Homo sapiens: one gene and its partners. The protein of the gene in region 2 purifies or fractionates together with the protein of the main gene of each other region. This does not show direct contact. Each region holds a gene or a part of one and is shown on either strand. Other genes may lie near its edges.

Region 1 (3,750 bases), on a different chromosome or scaffold from region 2:
TCTTCTTGGCTGGGGCCACCACAGCCAGGAGTGGAGTGGACAGTGGAACCCACGGGTTCTCAAAGAGGTTAGGTACTTGGTGCTTCTTGCCTGTCCTGTCTTGAAGCCTGGAATAGCAAGTTCAAGAACCTGAAGGGTATGGGGACCTGGCCCCATGACCTTGGCCTCTGTGCAAATTTGCTGAAAGAACTTTCCAAAGGCTTTGCAAGGCAAGCACAGTCTGTTTCATGGATGTTTTAAAACCAGCTGAGATGGTTTTGCAGCTGAGAAACGTGCTAAAAAGGCATTGCATCCGTTTTGTTAACATTTCCATCCATTGAGATTCGCTTTTATTCCCTTTAGTGAGCAGAAAATGTTACCTTTTCCAGCCCCACAGTGGGAGCTTCTCACTGGGTATGTGGGGAAGGCAAGGGAAGTGTGGGGCAGGGGCTTTTATAAGTGGAAGGGGTTGGTGGTGGGAGGAGAGGAGCAGGAAGGGGCTAGAGCATATCATGGTGGTCTTGGGGACTCTGGAGAGGCATTTGGGATGGAGGAGGAGAAGGGAGAGAGGAAGATGGGCCCAGTGAGATGCCCAGGGGGATTTGAGGAAGTGGAGCTTCCTGACGACTCAGGCTGTTGACGGGGTGGTGACGGAGCACAGGGAACCACTGAGGCTGCATTGAGGACTGCAGGGACGAGGGGAGGGCGCAGGACTAGGAGTTGGGAGGCCCTTGTGGTCCTGGGCAGGTTGCTGGGCTCTGAGCCTCAGTTTCTCAGGGTTTGACTCAGGAAGTGCAGAGTTCCAGCTTTAATGTTCTTGGTGCAGGGGAGAGTCCAGGCTTGGCGTGGTTGTTCCTGATTTCTCTTCCTGGGACTCATAGAACTTTGCACACCCCATGCTTAACCACACGTCTTACCTCATTGATCTTCACAGCTGCTCTGTGAAGCAGGAAAGTGATTTTTATCCTCTCCGCTGGAGGGTCGAAAGGTGGTGTGACCCCTTAAGGGCAAAGAGTCAGGAGTACCTCTTTCTCACTTGTATATGTTAACTGCTTTCAGGTGTGGCCACTGTGGGACCACTGCCCCCCTCCCACCCAACCCCCCCCCCCACCACCACAGCTCTCTGCCTTTCCGTTCTGTGTGGGGTGGCTCTTAAGAAGTGGAAAGTGATCATCTTGTTCCCTTAGTTTAGGATGGAGGGAGGTGGGGCGGGGATTGTGATGGGACTAGGTTAGGGGAAGAGGAGGATAGTGTCATCATTGTGTCTTTAAAACACCCAGGCTTTTGTGGTTGTGTTACCGTAATCTGGCCAGTGTTGACTTTAACCCGAGTTCAGGGGTTAGCCGTGATGCCATACAGGTGAGCCTCATTGTATGCAACAGAAAGCGTGGCTCCTAACAGAAAGCACGGCTCCTCAAAAAGCCGAACGAAAACAGTTGCTTTAGAGAGGAGTTCGAGGGGCTTGTTTGAATTTTATGCTTTCGGGCAGCCTTTTCTAAAATGTGTCCTAAAGAATACCAGTCTGTGAATATGTTTGGAAAATGCTGGGTACTCTGTGGCCGTACAGAAGACTTAGTCTGTATATTAGCATATATTAGTACCTTAAAGACAAGTAATGCAGTATTTTCCAAGCTAATTTGGCTAATGTCCAAGAACCTAGTGTTCTGAGCAGGGAAATTCTGATGTAGGGAAATTCTACACTATGGGCACTTTCTCTTTTTTTTTTTGAAACGGAGTCTTGGTCTATCGCCCAGGCTCCCAGCCTGAAGTGCAGTGGTGCGATCTTGGCTCACTGCAACCTCTGCCTTCTGGGTTCAAGCGATTCTCCTGCCTCAGCCTCCTGAGTAGCTGGGAATACAGGCGCACATCACCACGCCCGGCTAATTTTTGTATTTTTAGCAGAGATGGGGTTTCACCATGTTGGCCAGGCTGGTCTTGAACTCCAGACAGACCTCAGGTGATCCACCCACCTCGGCCTCCCAAAGTGCTGGGATTACAGGCATGAGCCACCATGCCTGGCCCACTATGGGCACTTTCTCTTTAAAGAAAATTTTGGAGGTTCCCTTTGTAACGAGAAGTCCTTGAGAATAGCTCAGAGGGGTCTGGCTCTGGGTCCATCTGCCAGGCTTGCGTTCTGATTCTGTCACCACCTCTGTGACCTTGGGCAAGTTTGTTCTCTTCTGCGGGCCTCCGATTCCTCGTCTGTAAGTTGGGAGTAACTTACTCCCAGTACTCATGGGGTTTTGTTAATTGTTCCTCACAAAAACTAGGGAAACTGAGACCCAGAGAGGCAGTGTGACTTGCACCGGTTCCCACGGCTGGTGGCTGTGGGTTCTTCTTGTCTCCCTGGGCCCAAGCCGTGCAGTCTTCTCTGGGCACCCTCCCTGTCTCTCTGGGGTCAAGGTCAGCTGCTATTTCTCTAGACACATCTTTCCAGCTTCACCCCTCCCTCATTTCAGGTCTCAGAACACTGGGATATTCACGTTTTGTAGTTCCAGCGCCATGTTTGCCTCTGGAGCAGTGGTGGAGGGTGGGGTGGGATACCGTCTTGGTCCTCAGGGTACTCTAAAGTTTAGACCAGGTGAAGGGTGTAGATGCGACAAGATGAGGCACATCCTCTCTGGCCAGGGACCCGTGTTGAGGATGATAATGACTATCCTAATAATTTGTTGTATTTGTCAAGTGCTAACTATGTGTTAGGCACATATTTCTGCCAACAAACTAGAACAGTTTATGTACTTTTATTATCCCCATTTTACAGATAAACTGAGGTTCAGAGTGGGACAAATAACTTGTGGTCAAAGCCACAGGCATAGGAGGAGACAGAGCCTAGCTGTGTCCTGGAGTGGCAGGACTCAGTCCCTGTGTTCCTAACTACCCCTCTTTCCTGCTCCCATGCCGGGAGGGGCTCAGCTTATACATGATCTGGGTGCTTAGGGGTAGGAAAGCTGCTTCTAAGATGGGGTGAAGGGCGAGTGGGGTTTAGTCCGGCGGGGTGGACGTAGCTGCACTTTCTTGGGTTTTCCCCACTCGCCACTCTCTGCTCCTCAAGGCCACCTCCAGAGCTCACTGACCTCTGCCTGAGTGGCTTGGGCCACCTCTCGCTTTAGGAGTGGATTTTTTTTTTTTTTTTTTTTTTTGAGACGGAGTTTTGCTCTTGTTGCCTGGGCTGGAGTGCAGTGGCGCGGTCTTGGCTCACTGCAACCTCCACCACCCGGGTTCAAGCGATTCTCCTGCCTCAGTCTCCCCCAAGAAGCTGGGATTACAGGTGCCTGCCACCATGCCTGGCTAATTTTTGTATTTTTAGTAGAAACAGAGTTTCACCATGTTGTCCAGGCTGGTCTGGAACTCCTGACCTCAGGTGATCCGCCTGTTTTGGCCTCCCAAAGTGCTGGGATTACAGGCGTGAGCCAGGGCATTTCACATCTCTTTAGCTCATGGGGCCTGCCCTTAGCCTTCTTTTGCCCCACCCCAGGGAGAGGCTTTGGGCCTGGCCTCTGTAGTCTGGGTGGGGTGCTGTTGCCACCCCCTCCCTCCAAATTCTCCCTGATTTTAAGCTGGCTGTCAGGGTGAGCTGGCTTTGGCCCCCAGCCAGGGCTGCTCCCAATTCTGCTGCCTTGCTGTACTTCTGCTGCCGCCACTGCCTCCTCCCCCAATGTCTCTCCCCAGACCACTTTAATTTCCATCTGTCAGCAGCTTGTGGAAGGACAGACTACCACTCATGCTCTCTCTCCCTGCCCCCTCTTCCTGCTTGGTATTGACTCACCTGCC
Region 2 (3,750 bases):
ACCTGGATCTGTAGTGGATTTTGTAACACAAAGAGGCAGAATATCCAGGGTACCAGGTAGGGCAGTTTAGGGGCAGAGTTAATATGAGGTGTACTGTAATGTTTGAGTGGAATTACATACAGTGTTAATCAAGAGATCTAGTGCTATGGTAGAACTTATTCTGCTTGATGATACAGGTGACTGTTCTTCCTTACTAAGAGCAGTTTCTACCTGTGATACTTAAAGGGATTGAATTTCACTGTGACTTATATCAGATATTTTGAAAAGAGCTGTGCTAAAGTTGATGTCATTGTAGAAAGTTTGCCTTGAAGTGGAATGAAAGTTAGGTTTTTATTTCTTTGGTTTTTCTGTTTGACATCCTTTGATTTCTATTTTAGAATTCAACTCTTATGACTAATCATGCTGATGTGGTTTGTTCATTTATTTTCTTTGTCTATACTATTAGGAATGTCCTGGAAATAGAATTTGTACTGTGTTTTCTGAGAGCTTGTTCTCTGAAATACAGATGCAAATCTGTTGGTATCTGTTGGTATATCCCTTGGGGGTGTGCTGCATTATAAAGTAATAAAACAGTTTACAATGTTTGCTTTTTGTCAAGAGCTTATGACATATAATATGGAAATACAAAAAAGTGAATTATTTAGGAAAAAATGGGAAATTTTTCCTTTTCTGGGCACTTCAGGGTTTTGTATATGCGTAGACTCAGGATCTAAGTCCACTTAGATATATAGTTAGATATTTTGGACTATTTGCCACTTAACCCTGCACATTTTCTTTTCCTTATTCTTTTTTTTTTTTCTTTGAGACGAAGTTTTGCTCGTCGCTGAGGCTGGAGTGCAATGGCGTGATCTTGGCTCGCTACCACCTCCGCCTCCCGGGTTCAAGCGGTTCTCCTGCCTCAGCCTCCTGAGTAGCTGGGATTACAGGCATGCACCCAGCTAATTTTGTATTTTCAGTAGAGACAGGGTTTCACCATGTTGGTCAGGCATGTCTCAAACTCCTGACCTCAGACGATCCGCCTGCCTCACCCTCCCAAAGTGCTGGGATTACAGGCATGAGCCACCACGCCCGTCCTATTCTTTTTATTCATGTGTATGTTATTGCATGTATGTGTGTGGGGGGCAGGTGGTAGTGCATATTTTATGTATCTTTCACTTCTCTGTTGTTTGATGAACTTCTTCCATACTCCTCTTTGGTATCACTTTCTTCATAAATCTTTCCTGACTCCCCAAATCCTTTGCTGTATTGCTTTTTACTCTTCAAACTTCTATTATAGAATGTCACACTGTATTGTAATTTACTGTCCATCTGGACTGGGAGCACCTGAGAGGTATGGCCTTGACTTGTTTATGTTTATGTTTTGAATGCCTCTATAGTGCATAATACTTAATAGGTTCTCAATACGTATCTATTAAACTGAACTGTTGCTAGATTGTCATTTGACAGTGCTGTTTCACAATCCACAGATCTGAAGCAACAGATTGGAAAAGTGGTGGGGAGAATAGCTTCCTGTATTCCTTCACTTCCTTGAATCCTTTCTTACAGTTTTGCTTCTTAATTACATATGGAAAAATAGATAACTAGCTTCTTAGGGAAGTGTGTGTAAAGTTAGTATGGAATTAGGGAAGGATGTTAGTAATAGAGTGATTAATACCCTGTTTTGCTTCTGGCAGGATGTTTAGATCTGTATTTCTTGCATTTCTCGCTGTATTTTGTATGGTTATGGCTATTATGTGAAGGAGATATTTTGTATTTGTCTTTACAAGGTATCATGTTTACCAGTACTTACCCATGAGCTCATATTAGATTTGGGGCTTCTGAAGATAGATTCTGTTTTTCTCACCTTTTTCCTCCTAATGCCTGGCCCATTGGTTAGTAGAAAGCAGGATTTCTCTAGTTTGAATAAAATTGCCCTTATGGAAATAAGGTGAGATGTGTCTTATTGGAGGTCCAAAATTTAAAAAGCTCTGAAAGTTGATCATTTCTTTTGTTTTGTTTTGAATAAGCAAGGTGAGAAAATATCAACTGGAATTATACCTGTGAATTTGATTATTATTATCTTTCTTAATCTGATTTTCCTACATTTTCATATGGAAATGTTCACGTGTTTGACTGCAGGTGTTGCCATTGGCAGATGTTACATCATATATGATACATACAACATTTTACCTTTCTCAAATCTGAAACTGTGTTTTGAGAAACATCTGGCCTTTATAGGTTTGTTTAAGAGATTGTGAGCCAATTTTCTGCCCATTTTAGAGATGTAGAAATCAAAACAGGATAGATGACTCTCAGAATTGCATTTTAGTAGATATGCTAATATTGATAATGATTTTAGGAATATTATGTCTTAATTGCCTGTATATGTTCCAGAGACCTTTTAGTGACTAAGAGCTGCCAAAGATACAGAGTGTATATTTTTAAAAAGGGAGTATGATCCAGTACTCAGGACACCAGTCCTTTCTCTGCCTTTTCTGAATGGAAATGTCTTTCCTTATACGTGAGTAGATGAAAATGCACATTTAGTAAGTTTTTACTAAAACTTAGTAAAAACTAATGATAAAATGAGTGAGGGAAAATTATGTATCCTGGCAATTTAGGTAACAGTGAGTAGACTTGCTTGTTTTTCAAACATATTGATATACTATTTTTCCATTTGTGTATTCAGATGTTGAAACAGCTCCAGTTTGTATTAGCATCTGGACAAAATGTAATGACTGATTATGTAATACAATGTGTTTGAGAGAGGAGCATTTGGTTTTGTGTCATATCTGGCAAGAATGTGCTTTTGTATTACTTTCTACATTGTAAATTATAATGCCTATCCTGCATACAAATTTTGTATTTAGTTTTCTGCTTGTAAGAATCTTTCATAGGTCAGTAAAATAAAATATTAAGTTTACTATGCCATTCCAAGCACCTGACTACTTTTGGCTTTGCTACTTAATATTTTTAAAATGTTTTACAGCTTGCAGAGAGGACTTTTATATACATTATCTTAATTTTATATATATTAAAATAAGTTTAAAACTTAGCATTTATGTTTATAAACAAGCTATTTTGGTCAATAAGAAAATTAGAAGTTGGGAATTATGAAGGCCGTTTTCATCTTCAGACTGGACTCAGAGTCTAATTTCTTTCTCATTTATTTTAGCGCTACTTTATAGAGAAAATCGTGATTTATTAAATCAAATAGATGTTAATGGAAGACTTGTTTTTGTTTGCATCTGATCATCTTGCAGATCCTGGATATTTAATCAAATTGATGCAGAAGTTTGAAAGACAAGCAGCAGTAGGAAATTTTTGTTTCAAGCTTGACTTTTCTGACAATATCCAACAGCTGCTCATATTTTTAAAAATTAGAAACATTCACTGAGAAACGTTAAAAACTTAAAAGCAAATACTGTGTTATAATGAGAATAGGTAATAACATATCATTGATGCTACACTTTACATATTATTGCACCATTATTCTGAGGTAATCATATGCCGAACAGATTACTGCACAAAGTAATGCTTTAGGGGTGTAGTTTTTATGGGAATGAACATGTCTGGCCTGAAATTAGAAAAAAAATTGGAGCCATAATCTTTCTAATCTATGCTTGCTTATGAGAAATTCTAGGTATATTTATGTCAGGCCAAACTATTTGCTACAGCAAACCGGTTAACCTGACATCTGAGATAGTCTTTAAAGTGTTTAAGTTTGGTATACAATGCACTTGTGTGTGTATATGACTCATCCTAAAATGG
Region 3 (3,750 bases), on a different chromosome or scaffold from region 2:
CTGTTTTTTTTTTTTTTTTTTTTTGGCAATATTCTATTGGGCGTTTTTGACTGCAATTTAAATATCTTTCAGTACTGGAAATGGTTTAACACGCAATCTTGGGTCAAAGTATGCATCATAAGGCCTCATAGAAATATTCAAATGTTAAAAAAAATAAATAAATATTCAAATGTTCCTCCCGTGGTGCGTTTAGTGGTTAGAACTCAGGTTCTCCAGTTAAGCTGCCTGGGGTCAGATCTCAGGGCTACCATTTACAGCCCGGGAAACCCTGAGTTAAAGTTACTTTGATCTCTGTTTTCAGTGTCTTTACCTGTAAAAATGAGGCTATCAAATATGTATACACTGTCTATGATGTCCAGGCTTCTTAACAACCCTAACAAAAAGACAACATCATTGTCCCTGTTTCCCAGTGGAGAAAACCGAGACACTACGAGATTAAGTGACTTGGCCCAGGCTGCACAGGTTGAGGGACCCGGATGTAAATTTAGGCAGCCTACATGCAGTCCCCGGCATCCCCTAGCCTACTGCATCTGCCTGTGGCTATTTGTGAGACGGTGAGCTAAAATGAGACAGAACCTATGTGCCCAGAACAGTTTCTGGTCTGTAGTAAGCCCATCATTAGCCTTCATCGACATGTTATGGTGTAAACGCATTTTAAACCATGGCAGGCTAATAAACACCGTGGAAACACAATTCTGTGTATTAACTGATGATCTTCTAAACTGGGGGGTGATCTAAATCCAGTAACACTTGACAAAATTTTATATAAATGCACAATGAAATGTTCTTTGAGTTTGGTTTTATTAAAGTTTAATTGATAGACTAGGAATTCCTGTACTTCTAAGACTTGATGCAAATGGTTTTTGTTTTTTTGTTTTTTGTTTTTTTTTGTCTAAAACATCTTCAGGATAGTGCAAAACCTCTTTTCTTTAATATATTATTATAAAACACTCATTAGTAGAGTCAGCACCAAAAATGTGAGATGTATTGGGAGTTGTGTTTTGAAGACAGTTCTCCTGATTCTAAACCCAAATTGTGATTTATTACCTTCCAAAATATGTGGAAGGGAGTGCGGGCCTTAAGTTCAGTGATGTCTAAGTACACTGCTGCTTGCAAGCCAGCTACACATTTCAGCTAACCGGATTAGCCTACTTCCAGTTAAAACCCGACTGAGGATATGAAAATAAATATGACTGATTCATTTAAAATCAGAAAAACACTCAATATTTTCTTCCCTCTATTTCTGGTATGCTAAGATATCACACGAGTGCGACTTAAGAAAAACTTAGAATCTTTTCATTTAAAATAAGCCATTTTTGTTTTAACCGAATGGTTCAGTTATTAAATGTCTACCTGAGTCAAGGAGCGAGGTCACACTGCAAACTCCACTTATTTCTACTAAAGGGAAATGGCCCGGACTCCCCCGCGCAGACCACCGTGCCAGGACAGCCCGCTCGGGAGTCGGGCCTGGAAGCAGGCGGACAGCGTCACCTCCCCGCAGCCGCCGGCTGGGACCCGCGGCCAGCCTTTACCCAGGCTCGCCCGGTCCCTGCCCGCATGGCGGTGCCCCACCTGGTGAGGACGCGGGCTGCAGTCCTCCCTCTGGGGATGAGTCGGTGGGCTCCTCTGAGCTCCAGCGCCCCCAGGGTCTAGACCCCTCCCATTGCTCCGCTCCCCTCTCCCCGTGGTCTCCCCACCCCCAACCCCCAGGGTTCGGCTCTCCTCTCCCGGGTCTACCCCACAGCTCAACTCCTTTCTCCCGGCTTCTCCCCGCACGGTTCGGGTCCCCTCTCCCAGTGGTCTTCCCGGACCCACAGCTCTGCTCTCCTCTCACCAGTCTCCCCAACTCCGGCTCTGCTCCCCTCTCCTTGGGTCTCGCACCGGATTCGGCCCCCACTTCCGAGCCCTGGTGGCTAAGCCCCTCGGCCTCCCTCCGGGGCGCAGGGGGTTGGAGGTACTCACGGCACCGCAGCGGGCCGGGGACTCCCGGACGGGGCTGGAGGGCGCGGGCGGCTGGTGGCTGCGGCTCCGCTGCCGGCCGAGTGGAGCGCTGCGCAGCTCCCGCCCTCGAGAAACCCCGCCGTGTCATTTGACCATATAAGGAGATGCACGCCTCGGCTCGCTGGCACCGGGCGTGGGGCGCGGGGGGCGGGCGCCCCCAGGCCTCGCGGTTGCCGTGCCCCCGCCCCGGGCTGCGGCGGTCCCGGCCCGTACCCTTTGTTTGCCAGGGCTCCTTTCTTCGTGCCCTCCGGGTCTTGGGAGCACAGTAGTTATCGGGAGCGTCGCCTCCGGCGTGGGCTCTCGGGCGCGAGTTTCGGACGAGGCCTGGGCGCGGTGGCAGGGGTCTGCCCACGCCGGGATCTCTGCCTGGTCCCAGGAGCGGGAGACTGGAGAAGCCCCAGGACGTGCCGGGGGAGGCGGAGGGAGGAGGGGGTCACTTCTCAGGAGGCATGTGCCTGGGATATATTTGCAAGGTGGACGTTTTTCCTTCTTACCCTGCAGATGCTTCTTTACGAAATGAACACCACAGATGACCATAAAGAATCCTTCGTTCCACTACGGAGGGGACTAAAGGAAGGTCCTATCCCCACCTCTCCCTCTCGGGGCCAGAAGACTAGTTAGACATCTTGGATTCCCCTCCAGGGCGGGAAAACCAAAGTGAGCTGGGAGCGTGCCTCCCACATTCCAAGCCCGGGCCCTCTGCGTGACGCTGACGCTGGGTAGGGACAGATGGCACTGTTCAGCATTGTCGCAGGGAGAGCACAGGTTGAGCCCATCCCTGGGAGAGGGTGCGTCGTGATGGAAACATTTGCTCCTGAGCAGGTAACCGGTCCACTTGCAGAAACCGGTGGACGATGAGTAGGTGGACCACAAAGGCGTCCTCGGCACTTTGGGGGCAGGTGTATTATTTTTAACATTCGGGGCAGCTCATAGGAATACATCCTCCAGAGAAGGCGGGAAGAACTCCGTGATTGCTTTCTTTTAATTGATACTCTCCGTCTGGTAGGCCTCATGGGTCTCCATCATGGAATCACAGAACTTGAGAATAAAGGGGCTTCATCACCTTAGCTTCCACTCGGTGAGCACTAGCTCTACCTGGTATCTCATTTGATCCACACTCCTTTAAGGTAAAGATTTTTACCAGATTTACGGTGAGGAAAGTTCAGCTCAGATTTGCTCCAGGCCACGTGAACGGTAACTGTGCCAGCTGAGATTTGAACTGGGATGTGGTAGATGGCAAAGCCATGTAAGTATATTACGGGATCAGAAATGCCTCTCATCCCTCAGTCACTCAGGTGACTCCAGAGGACTGAGACTTGCCATAAGCCCAGCCAGAACTAGATGTGCGGAATACAGCCCTCCCCCGACCCCACCCCACTGTGTCCCTGAAACAGGACGCTTTCCTGAAGAACCTGAGTTAAGGCCACCCTACCTGAATTTCCACTAAGTGTCAAGACAGGCTAGTATTTTGAAATTCAGAGCAAAGTTTGTGTAGAAAAGGCTCCCAGCCCCTGACAGCTACCTAGATGTGTTGTTGATATCGTTACAAATTAGGAAATGGTCTCCTAGTTCTCAAATGGTGAGTCTTAAGCTTCAGTTTGTAAAAACAAGCCCTAAAATGATGAAACATTAATTCTGCATTTATCTTCTTTCTGATTCCTTTTGTCTTATATTTTAATTTTTTTTTTTTTTTTAGCTTTCTGACTTACGGGTGTAATCCATTTAGCTTTGCTTTTTTACTGATAGAGT

Evidence for each region.
Region 1: the proteins of CNOT2 (region 2) and TNKS1BP1 purify together in Homo sapiens (affinity purification with mass spectrometry; 5 studies listed by BioGRID and IntAct, with this or other methods). This does not show direct contact.
Region 3: the proteins of CNOT2 (region 2) and FHL2 purify together in Homo sapiens (affinity purification with mass spectrometry; 2 studies listed by BioGRID and IntAct, with this or other methods). This does not show direct contact.

The regions. Positions count from the first base shown.
Region 1 is NC_000011.10:57,304,242-57,307,991, reverse strand, and holds part of TNKS1BP1 (182 kDa tankyrase-1-binding protein), read left to right. Parts: intron 1-3,750.
Region 2 is NC_000012.12:70,246,382-70,250,131, forward strand, and holds part of CNOT2 (CCR4-NOT transcription complex subunit 2), read left to right. Parts: intron 1-3,750. UniProt on the Homo sapiens protein: Component of the CCR4-NOT complex which is one of the major cellular mRNA deadenylases and is linked to various cellular processes including bulk mRNA degradation, miRNA-mediated repression, translational repression during translational initiation and general transcription regulation.
Region 3 is NC_000002.12:105,397,008-105,400,757, forward strand, and holds the start of FHL2 (four and a half LIM domains protein 2), read right to left. Parts: upstream 2,045-3,750; 5' UTR 1,835-2,044; intron 1-1,834. UniProt on the Homo sapiens protein: May function as a molecular transmitter linking various signaling pathways to transcriptional regulation. Negatively regulates the transcriptional repressor E4F1 and may function in cell growth.